4 linked regions of the Homo sapiens genome follow. Changing the gene in region 4 together with the main gene of any one other region gives a genetic interaction. Each region holds a gene or a part of one and is shown on either strand. Other genes may lie near its edges.

Region 1 (4,772 bases), on a different chromosome or scaffold from region 4:
GTTTAAAAGGGGGAGGTTGGAAGCTACCCTCCCAGGCTTTGCCTCTTACTAACTGTGCTACTTTGCATAAATTGCTTAACCTCTCTGTACCTCAGTTTCCTCATGTGTGAAACAGGGATAAAAGAACCTACTTCAGAGTGCTGCTGTGAGAATGAAATCTATTAATACATGTAAAGCACTTTGAACAATGGCTGGCATAGAGTAAGCACTCAATAAGTGTTAGATACTATTAATAGTAATGTTAACAATAATATTAATCACCAACTGGAGTAAGAGGGAGGGACTGTTTATCCTGGGACATGGGTGTCCCATGAAATAATTACAGAGAAGTCTCAGCAGCTGTTTGTAGGCAAGTTTTTAGCCTCGAAGACTCTATGGAAAGGACACGAGGCTGGGGGCTCCTGAGCAAATATCCCAGTCCCACTGACCAGGAGGCCAGTCTCTAGGGAAGCGAGTCAGGCTCCTTGGAAGGGACACTATGTTCCTATCCCTGCCTGACTCGGGGGAACAAAGGCACGTGTGTATGTGTGTGTGGCCAGGGAGGAGGGAGGGGAATGTTTCCCTTTCAAGAGAGGAACAAAGGATCTGAGGCATAGTTGAGTGCGTTCCAATCCCCTCCCAGGCCAGCTCCCATTCCTCAGATGATTGTCCAACAAGGTTTTCAACCTTCTAGCTTCCTCCTCAAAGGTGACTGGGGGAGGGGAAGGCAGGCTCTGTTTCACTCCACCCTTTATCATCAATTTCCAAGAGGCAGGATTTATATGTGCCAAACCTCAAGTTATCTCTTAAGAATCCCATCCTATGCAGGGGTGGGGTGGAATCTCCTAGGGGAACTCAGGGTTAATGGATGACACAGGGCACCGCAAGCAACAGGTTTAATGCATCTCCAGGGGAAGTCCAGGACTGAAACTGCTAATGCGTGATGGAGCCAAGGAGAGAACCCAGGAATTCTAACTGACCTCCCTCACAGCCTAGCCTAGGGTAGGGGGTAATGGCCTGGCAGAACCAAGTAGAAAGGCATTTTCTAAATCTTGAAGGGATGATCACAGCTGGAGGCAGAAGCCAGGTGAAGGAGGAAAGGGTAGGGAGCAAAGAAAGTAATGGACAAGAGGAAAGGCAGGGACACGTCCAAAAAAAGTAGTTTTTGGGGGGCGGACCTCTAGGGACATTGCTTTCCAGTTTCCACACTCTTGCCGGCAGGGCTGGGACAGGAAGCAGTCCATGGAAGTCATCGCAATGGCATTTCCTGAAGAGCTGGAGAAAAACCTCCAGTTCCGAGGGGAGCACTGGAGGCTGCCCAAAAAGCTGTGTGGCTCAGAGTTCACTGTAAGGCTCAAGCTTGGCCCGAGAGTCTCATCAGGGATGAAACCAAATAGCAGACGGTCCCAAAGGCAGTTTCTTTATACAAAACCACAATTTCAAAAATCAATATGTAAAAAAAGAGAAGCCAGATGATGTGAGTGAAGAGCCCTAGGATGATATGAAAGCCTTAAAAGAATGAATTAATTCACCCAATCTTCAGAAAAAGGTGGCATTACTATAGCCATTTACAAGTTAAAAGACTTGCCCAAGGTCACACAGCAAGCTAGTAGTCAAGTTCCAATTTGAAAGTCCAAAAACTGCCTCTTCCTCCTGATGTAACCTTGGGCAAGTCAATTCATCTTTCTCACCTGATTTCTCTCCTTTGAAACGGAGATGTCATCCTTCCTGCTCACCTCTCTGGGTGGTTATAAGGATCAAAAAGGCAAGGTGGATCTGAAAGTGCTTTGGAAGCTGTAAGGTGTTACATAAATATAGGGTAGCACTATTGTGGGCTCAGTGATAAACTAGCCTGCCTTGACACTGGGTTTAGTTAAGGTGCTGACATATCTGTCAACAGGAGAGAGCCATTTTAAAATATAACTAATGTGAAATATGCTGTAATGGTGGAATCCGCCACAAGGCCTAAGGATAGAGAGAACCAGCATTCCTTTATTGCCTACTTCAAACCCTCCATCTTGCATAAAGGGAAACTGGGGACTGGGGGTGAAGTGACTTGGCCAAGGTGAGACTGAGAGTAGAACTGGGATTCCAACTCCAAGACCAGTGCTTACACCACCATTGCACACAAACACTGTGGAGCTCCTACTACAACAGAAATGCTGCAAGGGCCTGCTCTGAGATGTGCTGATGGGTCACTATGGTATTTAGAAAAAGGAGAGTGGATGCTCAAGATTCCGTGAATGGGTCTCTGACATGCGTTCTGTGGAAAGATAATAAGAATAATGATACCAACATGGCTCCAGTCTTTATGCATCTCAGGTATACCTCACTGTGTCTTTACCATCGCCCCCTGTGAGGCAGGTATTATTATTTGTCCCAAGATTCAGAGAGGTAAAAGGAGCTTGCATAGGTAGACACGGATGAGTTGGGAACTGAACTCAGACAAATTTCATTTACTCAGACAGAAATACTGTTGGAGTGGAAGAGGACCATTCATCAGAATATCACATTTGGAGAGAACTATTCCCAAAGAACATCTATCTTACTTAACTTTGATTCTAGGACCTCCAAGTAGTTGAAAAATATGGTTTCCAGGATGGCTGGACCCATCAATATACCATGTGCAAGCCTGGTCTTATTCTCCAGTCCCCGTCTCACTACACCTCCACCTCTAGGTCCAAGCCACTATTCTTTTTCACCTGGCAATTGCACCAGCCTCTTCACTGGGCTCCCTGTTGCCACCCTTAAGAATACAGACCAGGCCTGGCACGGTGGCTCACGCCTGTAATTCCAGCACTTTAGGAGGCTGAGGCGGGCGGATCACGAGGTCAGGAGATCGAGACCATCCTGACTAACATGGTGAAACCCCGTCTACTAAAAATACCAAAAATTAGCCGGGTGTGGTGGCGGGCACCTGCAGTCCCAGCTACTTGGGAGGCTGAGGCAGGAGAATGGCGTGAACCCAGGAGGTGCAGCTTGCAGTGAGCAGAGATCGTGCCACTGCACTCCAGTCTGGGAGACAGAGAAAGACTCTGTCTCAAAAAAAAAAAAAAAAGGAATACAGACCATTCCACCAAAGCCAAATCCTCATCATGGTCTGTAATGCTGTATGCGATCTGGCCCCCACCTACTTCTCCATCCTCCTCCTCAACCATTCCCTCCCCACCTTCTACCCTTTTCCCCTTTGCTGTTTCTTCTCCAGCCACATTGACCTTCTTGCTCATCCTTGAAAATGTCAAGCATGCTCCCTCCTGAGTCCATTCCCTCTGCTTTAAACACCCTTTGCTGTAGGGTACCTACATCATCCACCTCCTTACCTCATTTAGCGCTTGGCTCAAATAAATTTAGGTAATACTTTTGTTGGGACTCAGGACATACCATCCCAAAATATGACTGTAGGAAAACAATATGCCACCCCAAAAATATACTTCTTTGGCATATTTTGAACTGGTTATTCTGAGAAACTGCAGACATAAGAGTAGCTCTGAAAAGCTGTCCTTTTGTAAAAGAAATTCACATCTAAAAAGGAAATCTACACTAGTAAAGGTATCTGTATTAGGAAGAGGGCTGCTCCAGACAAATTTTATTACCAGAGAGACTTTTTATTTTTATTTTTTGAGACAGGGTCTTGCTCTGTCACCCAGGTTGGAGCGCAGTGGCTTGATCTCGGCTCACTGCAACCTCCACCTCCCAGGCTCAAGTGATCCTCCCACCTCAGTACACCCCCTCAACAGTATCTGGGACCACAGACACACGCCACCACCAATTCTTTCCCTCACCCTGCCATAACTTGGGTTGCTGCCACTCAAGCCCCTAACAGAAGTCCCAAGCCCCATATTCTTTTCTGTAGCTCAGGATGCTATATAAGCTTCAATTATCTGACCCTTCTTTGAGCCTCATATTTTGTAGGATTCCTGTGTACAACTATGTAATTAATTATTTTTCCTCCAGTTAATCTGTCTATGTCAATTTAATTCTCAGCCCAGCCAAAGGACCTAGAAGGGTAGAGGAAAGCCATTTTTTTCTCCCTTACACCTTCTTTGATCACTCTTTTAAAACTGCAGCCCCACCCTCCCTTGCTAGACATGCCCTATGCCCCAACCTGCTTTATTTTCTTCATAGCATGTACAATCATCTGATATAAACATGTAATTATATATTTATTGCCTGTCACTCCTCATTGGAATGTGAGCTCCATGAGGACAGAAACTTAGTTTTGCTTACTTTTGTTTACTGCCATACTCCCAGTATGGTACACAGTAGGAGCTCAATAAACATTGTTTGACTCAACGAATGAATTATTAGGTAAATAGCCACTCCCATTATTGTTATTCTGGCTTGACAAGGGTCTGTTTCTTCAGAAATTTAGTGGGTTTCTCTTCAATTAGGTATCTGCTATGCCCAAGGCCTCTGCTCAGTGCTGAGGAAACAAGCATGGACAAGATGTGGCCTCCACCCTGAGGAGCTCCTAAATCTAGGACAGAGTAAATCTGTTAGAAATGTCTTCTCTGCACATAATTTAAGCTCTACCAACTGTTAACTTCTTTTCATTTATCCAAGTTTTGCCAGGTACCACACCAATAAAAAAAGACTCAGTCCCTCTTCCTTCAGATATCTGAAGCTGGTGATATTCTCCTGGGTCTTCTCTTCCCCAGGCTAAACAAAAAGACCCAGTGGGATTGCCTGACTCAGGTCTGCCAACTGGGAACAAGGAAGACAGACTGTCGGATAGAGGGGCAGAAGAGAAGAGGATCCAGGAGTAGAGTGACTCCTTCAAAGAAAAAAGAGGG
Region 2 (4,772 bases), on a different chromosome or scaffold from region 4:
ATGTTGAGGGTGAACGGATGTCAAAATGGGTCACTGGGCACTCCTGGCCCCCACCGTCCCCCCGGGTCCTCCCTTGCATCCTCCCAGCCTGTCCTTCGCAGTAAGTGACGAGAGGCTGACTGCCTGGGCCCTGGGCACTGCTGCCCACCAAGCAGCAGGTACAGGTGAGTTTCTTCCACCTCACAGGGAAAAAGTTGCTTTATAAGCGCAGGACAAAGTGACCCTCAGACGGTCCCAGAACAATCGTGTGCTCAGAGGAGCTTGGGTCCAATGTGTCTCTCCCTGCTGCCTCCCCGCCAAGGCCTGCATAAGCCTGCAGGCGTCGATTAAACAGTGTAGCTAAGGGGAAGAGAGGAAGGGTGCTGCGACCCCACTTCCGAAACTGCCCGCGCTCAGTTCTTCCCCTGTCCTTACTCACTAACCCTTTACCACAATCCAATGGGGTGGACATTATTTCAACTCCTCCCATTTTCAAGACGAGGAAACTGAGGCCCGGAGGAGTGAAGTCACTTGCCCAAAATCATACAGCATGTAAGTGACAGAGCTGGAACTTGACAACAGGCCTCTCTGATTCTAGTCTTTGATATTCACTTCTGTGCTACTATCGAATCTACCATGCTGGGATTGGTGTGAGATGGAAACATGGAGACGGAGGGACCCCCATACCAGCTGGGAAAGAAGATGGGGGAGGAAGACCCCAAGAGGGCATTTGGAGCTCAGCATCGGACACAACTGGGCCCCTGGCACCCCTGAGAGCTCAGCTGAGACTCCAGGACTCCTCCCGAGCAGCAAGATGTCATCAGCATCAGAGGGCTGAGTGGGCCTCTGCTCAGAGCCCAAGCTCTGTCAGGGGAGCCCCTCCCTGACCCGGAACCTGGAGCCCCAGCCAGCCCCGCAGCCATCCATCACCCACTGCCCAAGGACCCACTCCTGCTCCAGGCTCTGCTCTGGCCCTGCCAACCTCTCCAGCCCTGCTTCACAGGCCCATTGGAACTCCCGGAACACGATGCCTCTTCACATTTCGGGACCTTCGCCTCTGCTGTGCCCACTGCCTGGAATTCCCTGAACCTTCTCTACTTTCTAGAAAGGCACAGAACTGTTCTCCGACTTCCTTAGTTAGAGCTGTTTGCTCTCCCCCCAGGGTCCCCTCTGCCCCTTCCGTGGCTCTCAGAGCCCTGGGCACCTCGCACTGGCATTATCTAAGTGCATGTCTGACTTCTCCTCCAGGCTGGCAGCTTCCTGGGTCCAGATGATTTTAATGTCCCCAGTGTCCAGCCCAAGGGCTGCTCCACTCTCAGAGCCAGAGAGCCCCCTCTTCTGTCTGCTAAGATGTGTCCTGTCTGGAGGTGGGGAAATGAATGATCAGCTAGAAGAGACGCCGGAGTCACCCACACCCCTCCCACTTTTCTGTCTCCTCACCTCTGGACTTTGCAAAGAGACACCAGCCCAGGGTCCACTGGACCAGTGGAAAAGAACTTCCACATGGCTTACGAGAGGCGCTCTAAGGGCTGGGCTGGTACTTATCTGCAAGGCCCCTTTAGAGAAGCTGGTGACCACTGCTCATAATCCCGGGCTCAATTCAAAGACTTTGAGAAGGGGAAGCAGGAAGGTTTGGACCACGGAGAAGCCAGAAGCAGGAAAAAACACTCAGCAAAGCTGGGACAAAAGCCCTTCCCATCCTGCGTGAAAATCCCCGGGAGACTAGGAAGGCAGCCAGAGGAAGTGCCCTGCCCCTCAATCCAGGGTTCTGGAAGGCCGGGAATGCCCTGCTCCTCCTCCCCTCTGCACGGGGGGTGCATGGGAAGTCTGGAGGGAAGCTAGCAACCAACCCAAGATGCTTGGGGTCCTCATCCCCACCAGGGCCTCCAGCCATGAGCAGAAGGCAGGTGGGAGTATTCAAGACCCTGCCTTTTGCCTCATCCATTAGGTCGGACCAGAGAGGCGGGCAGTGTTGAGAAGGGGCTGGGGTGAGAAACCCACCCCATGACAGACACATGGTACATCCCCAGGCCTCAGCCATGACAGGCGCTCCACGGTGGAAGCCGTAGCCACCACCATCAATCCTCGACTCCCAGATGGCCCAGGCCCCAGTCCCGCGATGCCCCTAGGGCTCGGAGCACCCACCCCCACCTACCAGCCAGGGCAGGCAGTGCCCCCAGCCCATCCGGCCTCATGCCCCTGGAGGAAGCCCAGGCCCGAGTGGCGTCAGCATTGACAATGCTGCTCAAGGCTGCAGTGGCCCCAGCAGTGGGGGCAACGGGCCCTGCTGTTTACACCCAGCCCCAGAACAGCCAGGGGGTCAGCCTGGGAAAGCTAAACACCAATAGCCCTGGGTGAAAGAGTGCCTGAACCCAGGCCAGGGAGGGGCAGGCCTTGGTCAGCTGGAGGGGCCTCTAGGGAGGTCTCAGAGAGCCAGGGCACTGGAGGGGCAGTTCTGGGGCCTCAGGCTCTTCAAGCCACTAGGTGGGAAGACTGGGAAGTTCTTTCCTATGTCTAGCCTCAGTTTCTCCTGCTGCTTTCCTGATTACTGTAGCATCAGGTACCTCGACCCAGGGGGAAAGAAGGCCATGCCATAGAGGAAGGCTGCCTCGCCAGGGAAGATCAGTGGCAGACCCTGGAATCCCCCACCCACCTACCTATCTAGCTTCCTGAACACCCACACACATGCACATGACCATCCAGCATACGCAAGATTTGCAGAGGCAGGAGGATCTTTCACCTTAGCTGGGAAGGAGAATGGCCCACAAATGCCCCAAACTCTAAAACACTAAGAGCCCCCATCTGTGTGTGACACTGCCAATCCTTGCCAGCCTCCCTGAATGGGAGGACAGGATGGGCCGGACCCCCTTCCCAACACTAGGCTGAAGCCTGGGGAGGCAAGACAGTCTCCCAAGGACTCAGCTAGTCCTTTGAGGGAGCCCAGGGTCTCAGAGAATGAGGGAAATGAGTACTGAGAGAGCCCCAGAATAGGGAACCCCAGAGGCTGAAGGGGTTGCAGAGACACCAAGAAGCAGAGAGACAACATGCAAGGGAGAGACACAGTAGGAAGAGACAGAGGCAGAGATCAAAGCAGCAGTGGCTCCTTGAGCAGAGGCTCAAGGAGGAGAGAAGGAGAGGGAGGGAGCGGGGACCCAGGAGGCTGTGATAAGTGGAAATGCTCCTTAATGTCCCCAGGGTGGCCTCCGGGTCCCCAGGTACTGCCTGAAGCCAGTGGGAAGGATGGCCCTATCCAAAGGACAGTCGGGCTAAGGCTTGGGCAGCCGGGAGGACCATGATGCAGGGCCAGCCGGGCGGGAGGAGAGACTCACCTCCAGCTCCTTGAAGACCATGCACCTGCGTGCCCAGTCCACGATGGAGATGAAGGTCTGGTCGGCCATTCTGCACAGGAGGCCGAAGGCCGCCGGCTGGTCGGGGCGGCTTTTGGTGGGCTCCTGCAGGCAGCCCAAGATGCGGGCCCGCACCTGGTCCTCATCCGGCTCCAGCTGCAGCAGCTGCAGGATGAGCTCAGGCACGTTGGGCCCTCCAGAGAAGGGCTCTGGGTAGCCGTACGGCAGCCCAGGCTGTGGGGGGCTGGCATAAGGCTCCGGGTACTCAGACTTGATGGCACGGCCAGGAAAGGCAGGGTAGAGGTAGCCAGCCAGTGGCCCGTGGGCACCGGGCACGGCCATGGGCAGTGCTGGGGCCCCAAAGTCGCCCAGTGGCCCAGCAGGTGGACCGGCGGCCAGGCCCTTGGGCTCAGGCCCATGCAGGCTGGGAGGCAGCACGTAGTCCGGTGCGGGAGGGGGCGGCGGGGGCACCCCCATCGGGGGCCCTGTCTCCAGCTTGAAGCCATTGGCCCGAATCTGTGCCTTCTTCTGCTGTTTCAGGGCCCGGTCCCGCTTGTACATCGGCCCAAACTTGTTCCGGCCACCCCTCATACGGTCAGCGCGCACGGCTGTGGGCAGGGGCAGAGGGTCAGACTCACCCTCTCTAAGCCCCCTTCCATGCTGCCCCACCACAGATCCTTTCCAAACAAATCTGACCGCTCTCTCCCCTGCTCAACACCCTTTCATGGCTCCCACTGACCACAGGGGAAGTCAGTCTCCTTTGCCTGGCATTCAAGGCCCTGCTCAGCTTTTCAGGCAATCCCTGCTAAGACCCCTCTCCTTCCACTCCACCGAACTCACCTCCACTCCTCTGTTTGACACATCTCCTTCCTCCTCCACCCTGCCTTTCATTTTCCTTCTGACTCAAACTTTTTTTTTTCTCTTGTGCTTGCTGAACACCCAGCCTCAATGTCACTACTTCCAGGAAGCACTCCTGGATTCATGCAAACGGGCTCTACTGTCCTTGCCCCAGGTGCCCTGTCCTTGCCCACTCTTATCATGCTGAGTGGATCATGCCATGTGCTCCTGCGGGCTAAGTTCTGGGCTCAGGTGTCTAGCATAAGGCCTGGCAGGGAGATGGTGACCGGAAGGGGACCCTGGTCAGCCTTGTTCACCGCTGGCCCCAGGGTCCAGCTGTTTGTTGACTGACTGCCTGACTGTTGAGCTCCTGCTTCAAAATGACTCAAGTATCCTTCACTGGCTGCGAATGTGAAGCCAAGTTTAGAGCTGGCCAAGGCTCTATGCTGGGGGAGGGGACCTCTCTTGCCGACTAGAAGCTCCTCCGCCTGGCGAGGAATGTGTCATCAGCCAGACCCAACAGGTACATCTCTGCAGCTGGAGTGTGCCCCCCGCCCCTGCTCAGACAGGGCCCCACCCTGGGATCTGGGCGAGGGGAAAGAGCAGGAG
Region 3 (4,772 bases), 8.7 Mb from region 4:
CATTTGGAGAGCTGTCACCTGATTGCCCTCGGTGGCGTTGTGCCGGTCCCCTCCTCACGGCGTGTCTGGGAAGAGCAAGCTCGTTTTAGCTGCACAGCCTAGAAGCCGTGGGCAGACCTGGGGGAAGGGGCAGGGCTCTCCCCTCCCATGCTGGCCCTGGCGTCAGATGCCACGTCACACCTGTGGTCTCTCCCAGGACACATTTGACATCCGGATCCTGATGGCCAAGTCTGTCAAGTACACGGTGAACTTCTTAGAAGCCAAAGAAGGAGATTTGCACAGGTACTGGCACCCACACTCCATCCTCCCAGGCCTGGCTCAGGCCGAAGGTCAGGGCCACCCCTGGCTCCCGCCGGCATCCTGCCGTCCCAGGGCAGATGGTGGGCGGGGGCCCCAGGCCTCTGCACCTGGCACCCCCTCTTCTCTCTCGGCAGCGCCTGTCTGGCTTCCCCAGCAGCCACTGCCCTTTGCCTTCCAGGATAGAAATCCCATTCAAATTCCACATGCTGCATTCAGGGCTGGTCCACGGCCTGGCTTTCTGGTTTGACGTTGCTTTCATCGGCTCCATGTGAGTGCCGCAGAGCAGCCCATGCTGCCTCCTCCCCACTCCCAGGGCTTCCTGCAGCTGCAACCTGGCTGGGGGGGTGGAACATGGCTCCAGGTTCCACCATCCCTTCCAATGGGAGTGAGAGCCTGTCTCGGAGCAAGAGACTGTTGTGGGTGGGGTGTGTGTGTGTGTGTGTGTATGTGTGTGTGTGTCCTGTGTTCCCAGTGTCTGTCCCTCATGGGTCTGTGTCTGTCTCTTGGCACATGTCAGGGTGAGTAGGGATCTCGTGGTTGCGGGCCCCTCGTGTGTACATGTATGCCTGCTCATGTTTGTGTCTGGGACTGCCTGGGGGCCAGCCTGTCTCTGCTCCAGGGTCCCAGGGGTCCCTGGCAGAGGGGGCAGGTGCTTGGGGAGGACTCAAGGCATACAAGGTGGTGGCTCCAGTGGTGGCGCCGGCCCAGTCAAGTATGTGCCTGTCCCTGCTCCACAGAATGACCGTGTGGCTGTCCACAGCCCCGACAGAGCCCCTGACCCACTGGTACCAGGTGCGGTGCCTGTTCCAGTCACCACTGTTCGCCAAGGCAGGGGACACGCTCTCAGGGACATGTCTGCTTATTGCCAACAAAAGGTGCGACTGCTCCCTGGGGCTGGTGGTGGTGGGCAGGGGTCCATCTGCCCAGCAGCTCATGCCACGGCCTGCACCCTGTCCGCAGACAGAGCTACGACATCAGTATTGTGGCCCAGGTGGACCAGACCGGCTCCAAGTCCAGTAACCTCCTGGATCTGAAAAACCCCTTCTTTAGGTAGGAGGGGCCCCTTGCCTGCACAGGGGGGCGCCCCGGCCCTGCAACCCCCTTGCCCCTGCCCATGGCTCTGTCTCTGCCATAGATACACGGGCACAACGCCCTCACCCCCACCCGGCTCCCACTACACATCTCCCTCGGAAAACATGTGGAACACGGGCAGCACCTACAACCTCAGCAGCGGGATGGCCGTGGCAGGTGAGCAGGGCCCACCCCAATGCCCAGCCAACCCGGGAGGCCGCCCTCGCCGCAGGCCTGGCCCCTCTGCCTCCAGCCCTGACGTCTCCCTCTCTGGACACAGGGATGCCGACCGCCTATGACTTGAGCAGTGTTATTGCCAGTGGCTCCAGCGTGGGCCACAACAACCTGATTCCTTTAGGTGAGTGTCCCCCAGGGCCAGGGGCAGCAGGGAGCCATGCCCAGGACTGCCCAGGGGCCGGGAAGGGCCTGTGGTGACCAGGGTCGGCCTCTGCTTGGTCCTTTCACCTTTTCCTCTTCCTGGGGGCTCTCGGCCGAGGCTCTCCGTCCTCTCTGCCTCGCTCTGCAGCCTGCTGCTGTGCATGGGCTGGGTGGCTGGGGGCGGTGACGCCGTCTCCCTTCCTTCTTTCCTCCCTCTCGCTGCGCAGCCAACACGGGGATTGTCAATCACACCCACTCCCGGATGGGCTCCATAATGAGCACGGGGATTGTCCAAGGTAACGAGGGTGGCGGGGGCAGGGCCCGTGGGGGCCGAGCTAGCGTGTGAGTCGCCATCCTCTGTCCGGCCGCCCGCCTGCCCTCTTGCCTGCCCTTTCTCTCTCTCTGTGACTCTGCCTGGGGGCTGGGCGGGCCAGGGCAGCCCCTCACTGCCATTGCCTGCTCCACAGGGTCCTCCGGCGCCCAGGGCAGTGGTGGTGGCAGCACGAGTGCCCACTATGCAGTCAACAGCCAGTTCACCATGGGCGGCCCCGCCATCTCCATGGCGTCGCCCATGTCCATCCCGACCAACACCATGCACTACGGGAGCTAGGGGCCCGCCCCGCGGACTGACAGCACCAGGAAACCAAATGATGTCCCTGCCCGCCGCCCCCGCCGGGCGGCTTTCCCCCTTGTACTGGAGAAGCTCGAACACCCGGTCACAGCTCTCTTTGCTATGGGAACTGGGACACTTTTTTACACGATGTTGCCGCCGTCCCCACCCTAACCCCCACCTCCCGGCCCTGAGCGTGTGTCGCTGCCATATTTTACACAAAATCATGTTGTGGGAGCCCTCGTCCCCCCTCCTGCCCGCTCTACCCTGACCTGGGCTTGTCATCTGCTGGAACAGGCGCCATGGGGCCTGCCAGCCCTGCCTGCCAGGTCCCTTAGCACCTGTCCCCCTGCCTGTCTCCAGTGGGAAGGTAGCCTGGCCAGGCGGGGCCTCCCCTTCGACGACCAGGCCTCGGTCACAACGGACGTGACATGCTGCTTTTTTTAATTTTATTTTTTTATGAAAAGAACCAGTGTCAATCCGCAGACCCTCTGTGAAGCCAGGCCGGCCGGGCCGAGCCAGCAGCCCCTCTCCCTAGACTCAGAGGCGCCGCGGGGAGGGGTGGCCCCGCCGAGGCTTCAGGGGCCCCCTCCCCACCAAAGGGTTCACCTCACACTTGAATGTACAACCCACCCCACTGTCGGGAAGGCCTCCGTCCTCGGCCCCTGCCTCTTGCTGCTGTCCTGTCCCCGAGCCCCTGCAGGTCCCCCCCCGCCCCCCCACTCAAGAGTTAGAGCAGGTGGCTGCAGGCCTTGGGCCCGGAGGGAAGGCCACTGCCGGCCACTTGGGGCAGACACAGACACCTCAAGGATCTGTCACGGAAGGCGTCCTTTTTCCTTGTAGCTAACGTTAGGCCTGAGTAGCTCCCCTCCATCCTTGTAGACGCTCCAGTCCCTACTACTGTGACGGCATTTCCATCCCTCCCCTGCCCGGGAAGGGACCTTGCAGGGACCTCTCCCTCCAAAAAAAGAAAAAAAGAAAAAGAAAGAAAAAATAAATGAGGAAACGTGTTGCAGCACAGGCAGTTTTCTTCTCCTTCTGCTCCCCTGTTTCTCATACCCCCAAACTCAGATGCTGGAGCTCAGGCCCGCCGTGTGTGCACCCAGGCAGGAGCGGGCGCTGTCCAGGCTGGGCCGCCCCCTTGGCTCTCCCTCCTGTTCCAGGGGAGCCATAGGAGGGAAAGCAGGTGGCCCGGGGGGGATATGGGGGCCCCAGCCCTGTCCCAAAGCTCCCTGCTCGGCTGCCCCTCGCCCGCCTTTATATAAATTCTCTGAATCACCTTTGCATAGAAAATAAAAGTGTTTGCTTTGTAAGAAAAGTCTGGAAAGTAGCAGAATCATCTCAAGGTGTCAAAGGAGCCTTCAGTCATCGTCTGGGGGGCAGGACAGGCAGAGGGGTTGGTCCACTTAGGTGTTGCCTGAAAGAAAGAATTGTCTGGGAGTGGCCCCAGAACCTCTCGCCTTGACTGGGAGTGGGAGGGCAGCCCCCTTAGCCCAGCTGGGAATAGTCCTTACCTGTGGGACCCGGGCCTTCCTAGGAGGGGGCCAGGGACTGCGGCAAGGTAGGGGACAGCGCGATGTTTGAGGGCAGAGATGTGATTTGGGGTGGAGGAGCCACGTTCTCCGGAGGCAGCGACTGGAAGAAGTACAACTGCACAAGACCCCTGGGGTCAGAGGCAGGGCCAGCCCATGCCCCCCTAGCCCCTCGGCCCCACCTGTGGCCACCCCAGACCCGTACCTTACAGCCCATGGCCAGGAGGGCGTGGAGCAGCACGACCACGGACAGCAGCACTGTGGCCACCAGCCTGGTGTCCTCACGGACCACGGGCCAGAGGGTGAATACCAGCCCGGCGGCTGACAGGCCCAGGGCCAGCGCCCCAAAGAGCCACTGCAGCCAAGGCACAGGGATGAGCCACAGGACCTGGGAGCAACACGGCGGCAGGTGACCATGCCAGTCCCCCCAGCCACCACCCACTCTGCACCAGGCCACCCTCACCACCATGGGAATGAGGCGGCAGGTGACCATGCCAGTGTCCCCACACAGCCACCACCCACTCCGCGCCAGGCCACACTCACCACCATGGGGATGAAGACAAAGAGGGAGTAGCCGTAGATGCACACAGTCTCCAGGAAGGTGTAGGGCCCCATGCGCTCCTGGACACCCTTGCGCCACCGCAGGAAGCCCCACAGGGCCAGGGGCACCAGCCACGCATAGCAGTAGATGCTGATGCCTGCCACGGTCACTGGGGGGGGCAAGGTGAGCAGTCACCCCCTGTACCCCAGGGCCCTGCCAGGCATTGGGCCTGCCCGTCTGCTTACCCTTGTGGAACTGGGGGCTGTAGTGGATGGAGGGGTCCCTCCTCTGGGCCAGCACCAGCGTCAGGTTGCCAGTGACGGCCAGGACAAAGGCCAAC
Region 4 (4,772 bases):
CACCATCACTGAAGCTGTGTAAACTCAGGTCCGCGGCCAGGCCCCCGCCGAAGGTGCAGCCGTTGGCAGGGTTGGTGCCCGGGCTGAGTCCGTCAGCCCCCGACAGGGAGCCGGGAAAGCCTTTCCTGGGGTGAGCGGCCAGCTTGGCATCGGCAGAGGGCTCCTCCAGGGCGGGCCGGAACGTGAACAGGGAGTTCTGGCTGAGGGCGGAGCTGGCCTGCAGCGGGCTGTCCGCCGACTTGGCCAGGCCGATGTCGGAGATGGGCGAGAAGGTGGACTTCCACTTGCTGCTATTGACTGGCTCGCCGGCGGGCGCGGGCTTCCTTCCCGCCAAGCCACCACCTGGCAAAGAGGAAAGGCAGAAGCCGTGAGCCCAGAGCACCTGCCCGGGCTACCCATGAGGCTAACCGGGGCTGCTGCCACGGCCCGGGCAACTCTGCAGGCAGGGCTGGTCACAGACACTCAAGATGCCAAGCGGGACAGGATGGGAGAGGACAGGAGGGAAGGGGACGGGAGGGGACAAGATGGGATGGGACAGGAGGACTACAGCACAGGATGAGATGGCAGGGGACGGGACTGGATGGGACAGGAGGGCGGAAGACAGGACAGAGGCAGCTGAAGCGGGTCTCAGAGGCCATGCGGGATGAGCTCTGGGGAAAATGCTGAGGTCAGCAGCCTGCGGGAGGGAAGGTGGGGCTGCCCCAGAGCAGGTCAGGGTCCTCACTGAGGACGCAGGCACCACTCGGGGGGAAGGCCAGGGTGCAAAGCAAACAGGGGACCCAAGGTGACGATCCCCGCAGGTCAGCCACCCACTGTGAGAGCATGGCGTGTGCGCGGAGGCCCTGGGCTGCAGTGAGGGCCTCCCAGAGGCAGTTCTGGAAGCCCAGCGCCCCCAGTGTCGGCGCCCACGCAGGACACGACGCAGCAGGCCAGCACCACGCAGGACACGACGCAGCGGGCCAGCACCATGCGGGACACGATGCAGCGGGCCAGCAGGTGGGTCAGCAGCACTGACTGGGCACCACGGCCACACGGACAGGCCTGGCCACGCCGCAAAACACTTGTTACTCACCATTTTCCAAGGTTTTCGGGGGAGATTTGCTTTCTAAGGAGATTGTTGCAATTTTTCTCTCAATTCTGTTAAGAAAAAAAGGTCATTAATGCTTGAAACCCAGCTGCATACTAAGAATGACACAAATGCTGACAGCCAACAGCCCAGGGAGCTCCGGAGGTGGTGAACGAGAAGCACTCGGCCCAGACAGGGGACCCGTGCAGCCACCCTGGGCCAGGCCTGGACTGGGTGGCTGGGCCCTGGGATCCACCCCTGTTGTGCCACAAGGGTACTGTCCTGGCAGGGACTCCAGGGCCTCTGCTGGGACAAGCAGCCAAGAGATCAGGCACAGCAGCTGAATGGGAGAAGCAATTTCCCAGCACACAGAAGTGTGAGAATCCCAGACAGAGCTCTCTTCCTACCTCCCTCTCCCGGCCCCTCTCAGACCTCGGTGCCTCAGGTGGCAAACAATGCCACAGCATTGCAGGCCAGCACGTGAAGACATGCCCAACCACACACTGCATGGGGTCGCTTTGATCCAATGTCCCAAGAACACACCAGGGACACACAAATTCCTAAAGATCCTGGAAACCACTAAGCTGAGCAATCCCAATGCAAAACAGAGCATCCAGGTGCTACAATGTTTCTCGTGTAACACGTGCACGCACACGTGGGCAAGGAGCAGAACGAACTAACACAGAACACCACCAAAAGCACACTTAGGGCCGGCTGTGATGGCGCACGCTGGGAGGCACTGGGAGGCAGAAGGCTTGAGGCCAGGAGTTTGAGACCAGCCTGGGCAACATGGCAAAACCCGATCTCTATAAAACAAAAAAACGAACGAGGCACGGTGGTAGCGTGTGCCTGTAGACACAACTACTCAGGAGGCTGAGGCAGGAGAATCACTTGAACCCAGGAGGCGGAGGGTCAGTGAGCCGAGATCGCGCCACCGCACTCCAGCCTGGGCCACAGACCAAAACTCTGTGTCTCAGGAAAAAAAAAAAAAAAAAAGCAAAAAACCCTACCATGTTATATCACTTCACGACGACTCGGATGGCTAGAATCAAAACAAGAAATTCAGTGTGTTGAGGATGTGGGGACTGAGGACCTCAGACCCTCGTGCACCCATGGTGGCAGGGTGGAATGGTGTGGCTGCTGGAGAGCCCAGGGGGCCGGGCCACCCAGCACCTCCGCCCAGGCACCAGGAAACGGGAAACTTGCTCCCAAACACAAACACGCACACCCATGGCCACAGCAGTGCTGCTCACAACCGCCCAGGGTAAGCAAGCCTAGCACGGAGGGCGGATGGATGGTGGAGCACCACCCAGCCACGACAGGGACCGAGGATGCACCTTGAGGACGTCACGCTCAGTGAGAGATGCCAGACACAAAAGGCCACATCCTGTGTGACTCCGCTCCTAGGAGGTCCCTAGAGCCCTCAGATTCAGAGACAGAAAGTAGGATGGGGGCGGGGGGTGCCAGGGGCTCTTGGGAGGAGAAGGGGAGTGAGTGTTTCAAGGGGATGATGAGATTTTCTCAGGACATGATGGAAGGTTCTGGATTTAGGCAGTGGTAATGTGGATATACCAAAGACCTCTGAATTGCACACTTTAAATGGAGAATACGATATGTGAATTTTATCTAATAAAGCTACTGTAATACACTCGGCAAGACGTGTGGATGAGACCTCCAACGCCTCACTGCTGAAGCTTCTCTCCTGCTGCGCTCAGCTCCTCCTCAGCTTGCCTCTTCTAACCGATGGCCCTGCTCGTGTCCCACCCCGAATGGCCCGGGAGGCCGGCCCTGCCCGGAACGGGGCCCAGGACCTGTGGGGAGGCCCCTCACAAAACAGACGCCTTCCTCCCATCCAGGGCACCCCCTAAGAGCCTGCCGGTCCTCCCCACCCACCCACCCACACACACACAGTGAGCAGGCACCTCCTGCCCCTGCTGCCAGGCCCCGCCCCCCTCCGGGCCCCTGGACTCGCCGAGCACTGCTGGGCTCGTCCTCAGAGCCTGGCTCCTCGTCTGAGGTGAGTGGGGAGTAGTGTGCCCCATTGGTCTGGCTCAGAGGCCGCTCCTTCTTGAGCACGGGGGGCTGGTCGTGGTCCTGGTAGGGCACAGGGGAGCTCTTCAGGGAGGTCTCCGGGGACGAGATGGCTGTAATCTCCAGGGGCTGGTTGATGTTACTGACCTGAGGGCAGACAGACACAATGGATGCACATACCACAGACCCGGGACCCCAAGGCAGGAGAGCCCCCCCGCCCCAGGAGGCTCCTGTCTGCACCCCAGGGTCTCCTGAGGAAACTGATGCCCTGCCCAGCGGCCAGTACAGCCCCTGTCCTGGTTCTTCCTGGTCCTCACACACCACCCCGCAATCCCAGAGCCCCCCATGCCCCCTCCTGATGTGCCCACCACCACTAAGGCCCCACAGCCGAGAATGAAGAAGCTTGCAGGCAGCGCATCGCACTCCGAACCCCAGAGACAGCTGTCGGCCGCCTCTTCCCAGGCTGCCAGGCCGCACGTGGTGGAGGATGGCCGGGCTCAGTCATGGCCCCCTGCCTCCACCTGTTTTTTTTTGTGTTTTTTTTTGTCCCCCCGAGAGGGAGTCTCGCTCTGTGGCCCAGGCAGTGGCCGATCTCAGTTCACTGCAAGCCCCGCCTCCCGGGTTCACATCATTCTCCTGCCTCAGCCTCCCAGGCACCCGCCACCACGCCCGGCTAATCTTTTGTATTTTTGGTAGAGACGGGGTTTCACCGTGTTAGCCAGGATGGTCTTGATGTCCTGATCTTGTGATCCACCCGCCTCGGCCTCCCAAAATGCTGGGATTACAGGCGTGAGCCACCGCGCCCGGTCTCCCTCTGGTCTTTCTTTCACAGGCCGCGCTCCCCAGCCCTGCCGGTCCCCATCCTTACCATGGAGTTGAGGTTGAGGGGAGACCCCGAAGGCTGTGTGAAAAGGCCAGCGACGGACGGCAGGGCTCGGCGCTTGGGGGACACGCCTGCGCTCAAGCTGGGCGTCCCCGCAGATGCTCGCTTCCGCCGGCCGCGCCTGCGACTGTCCTGCCCGTGGCTCGGCACACAGTCCCCACGGGCGCTGGCGGTCAGGGGGCTGTGCTTGCTGGAGGGCGACTGCTTGGCACTGCCCGCACCAGTGGTGATGGTGAACACAATCCTCCTCTTGGCTTCACTCTCAGGATCTGAGAAGCCGGAATCGGAGGGCAGGTCTCCCTTGCTGGCCTCGGGCAACGGGCCCTGGGCGGCCCCACCAAGCCGGGGACTGGAGGAGAGCTGGTGGGCGGGAGAGGCAGGAAGCGAGTTCCGGGGCTGTGCCAGCAGCAGGGGGTGCTGTGGCGTGGAGCTGCGGGACCCCACGGTGGCAAAAAGGCTCCCAGAGCTGGAGGACTCATCCAAGGTGGCCGGCTCGGCTCCAGGTGTGAGAGAGGCCGGGCTGCCCGCCAAGGCCCCGCTGATGGCCACCGAGCCAGCGTAGGAGAAGCCTGCCGGGAAGGACATGGGGGTCTCAGGGGACACAGGATGGCCAAAGAGAAAGCCTTGCTGTGGGAGCACCACCCCCTAGGAGCTCTGTGGGCTCCAGGAGAGGCGGGGAAGTGGGGAAGGGGTTGGGAGTCTGAAAACGGCCCCTCTGGGGTGGAACCAGAAGGCTCTGTGGGCAAGCTCAAGGCTCAGGGCTGACCCTGTGCCTCCTCCCGCCCATCTGGG

What was found. A genetic interaction does not mean that the proteins touch.
Region 1: changes in DOT1L (region 4) and BCL2L1 together harm fitness more than expected from each alone (negative genetic interaction), as found in Homo sapiens cells (one large-scale study listed by BioGRID).
Region 2: changes in DOT1L (region 4) and NR5A1 together harm fitness less than expected from each alone (positive genetic interaction), as found in Homo sapiens cells (one large-scale study listed by BioGRID).
Region 3: changes in DOT1L (region 4) and CARM1 together harm fitness more than expected from each alone (negative genetic interaction), as found in Homo sapiens cells (one large-scale study listed by BioGRID).

What each region holds. Positions count from the first base shown.
Region 1 is NC_000020.11:31,712,251-31,717,022, forward strand, and holds part of BCL2L1 (bcl-2-like protein 1), read right to left. Parts: intron 4,595-4,772; exon of another isoform or gene 4,371-4,594; intron 1-4,370. UniProt on the Homo sapiens protein: Potent inhibitor of cell death. Inhibits activation of caspases. Appears to regulate cell death by blocking the voltage-dependent anion channel (VDAC) by binding to it and preventing the release of the caspase activator, CYC1, from the mitochondrial membrane.
Region 2 is NC_000009.12:124,496,782-124,501,553, forward strand, and holds part of NR5A1 (steroidogenic factor 1), read right to left. Parts: intron 3,935-4,772; coding exon 3,309-3,934; intron 1-3,308. UniProt on the Homo sapiens protein: Transcriptional activator. Essential for sexual differentiation and formation of the primary steroidogenic tissues. Binds to the Ad4 site found in the promoter region of steroidogenic P450 genes such as CYP11A, CYP11B and CYP21B.
Region 3 is NC_000019.10:10,919,399-10,924,170, forward strand, and holds the end of CARM1 (histone-arginine methyltransferase CARM1), read left to right. Parts: intron 1-196; coding exon 197-282; intron 283-478; coding exon 479-568; intron 569-1,037; coding exon 1,038-1,175; intron 1,176-1,260; coding exon 1,261-1,350; intron 1,351-1,435; coding exon 1,436-1,548; intron 1,549-1,651; coding exon 1,652-1,729; intron 1,730-1,976; coding exon 1,977-2,045; intron 2,046-2,216; coding exon 2,217-2,359; 3' UTR 2,360-3,677; downstream 3,678-4,772. Other genes in the region: protein YIPF2, read right to left, coding at 3,893-4,009, 4,097-4,279, 4,435-4,601, 4,678-4,772. UniProt on the Homo sapiens protein: Methylates (mono- and asymmetric dimethylation) the guanidino nitrogens of arginyl residues in several proteins involved in DNA packaging, transcription regulation, pre-mRNA splicing, and mRNA stability.
Region 4 is NC_000019.10:2,221,753-2,226,524, reverse strand, and holds part of DOT1L (histone-lysine N-methyltransferase, H3 lysine-79 specific), read right to left. Parts: intron 4,550-4,772; coding exon 3,966-4,549; intron 3,245-3,965; coding exon 3,039-3,244; intron 1,138-3,038; coding exon 1,073-1,137; intron 343-1,072; coding exon 1-342. UniProt on the Homo sapiens protein: Histone methyltransferase. Methylates 'Lys-79' of histone H3. Nucleosomes are preferred as substrate compared to free histones. Binds to DNA.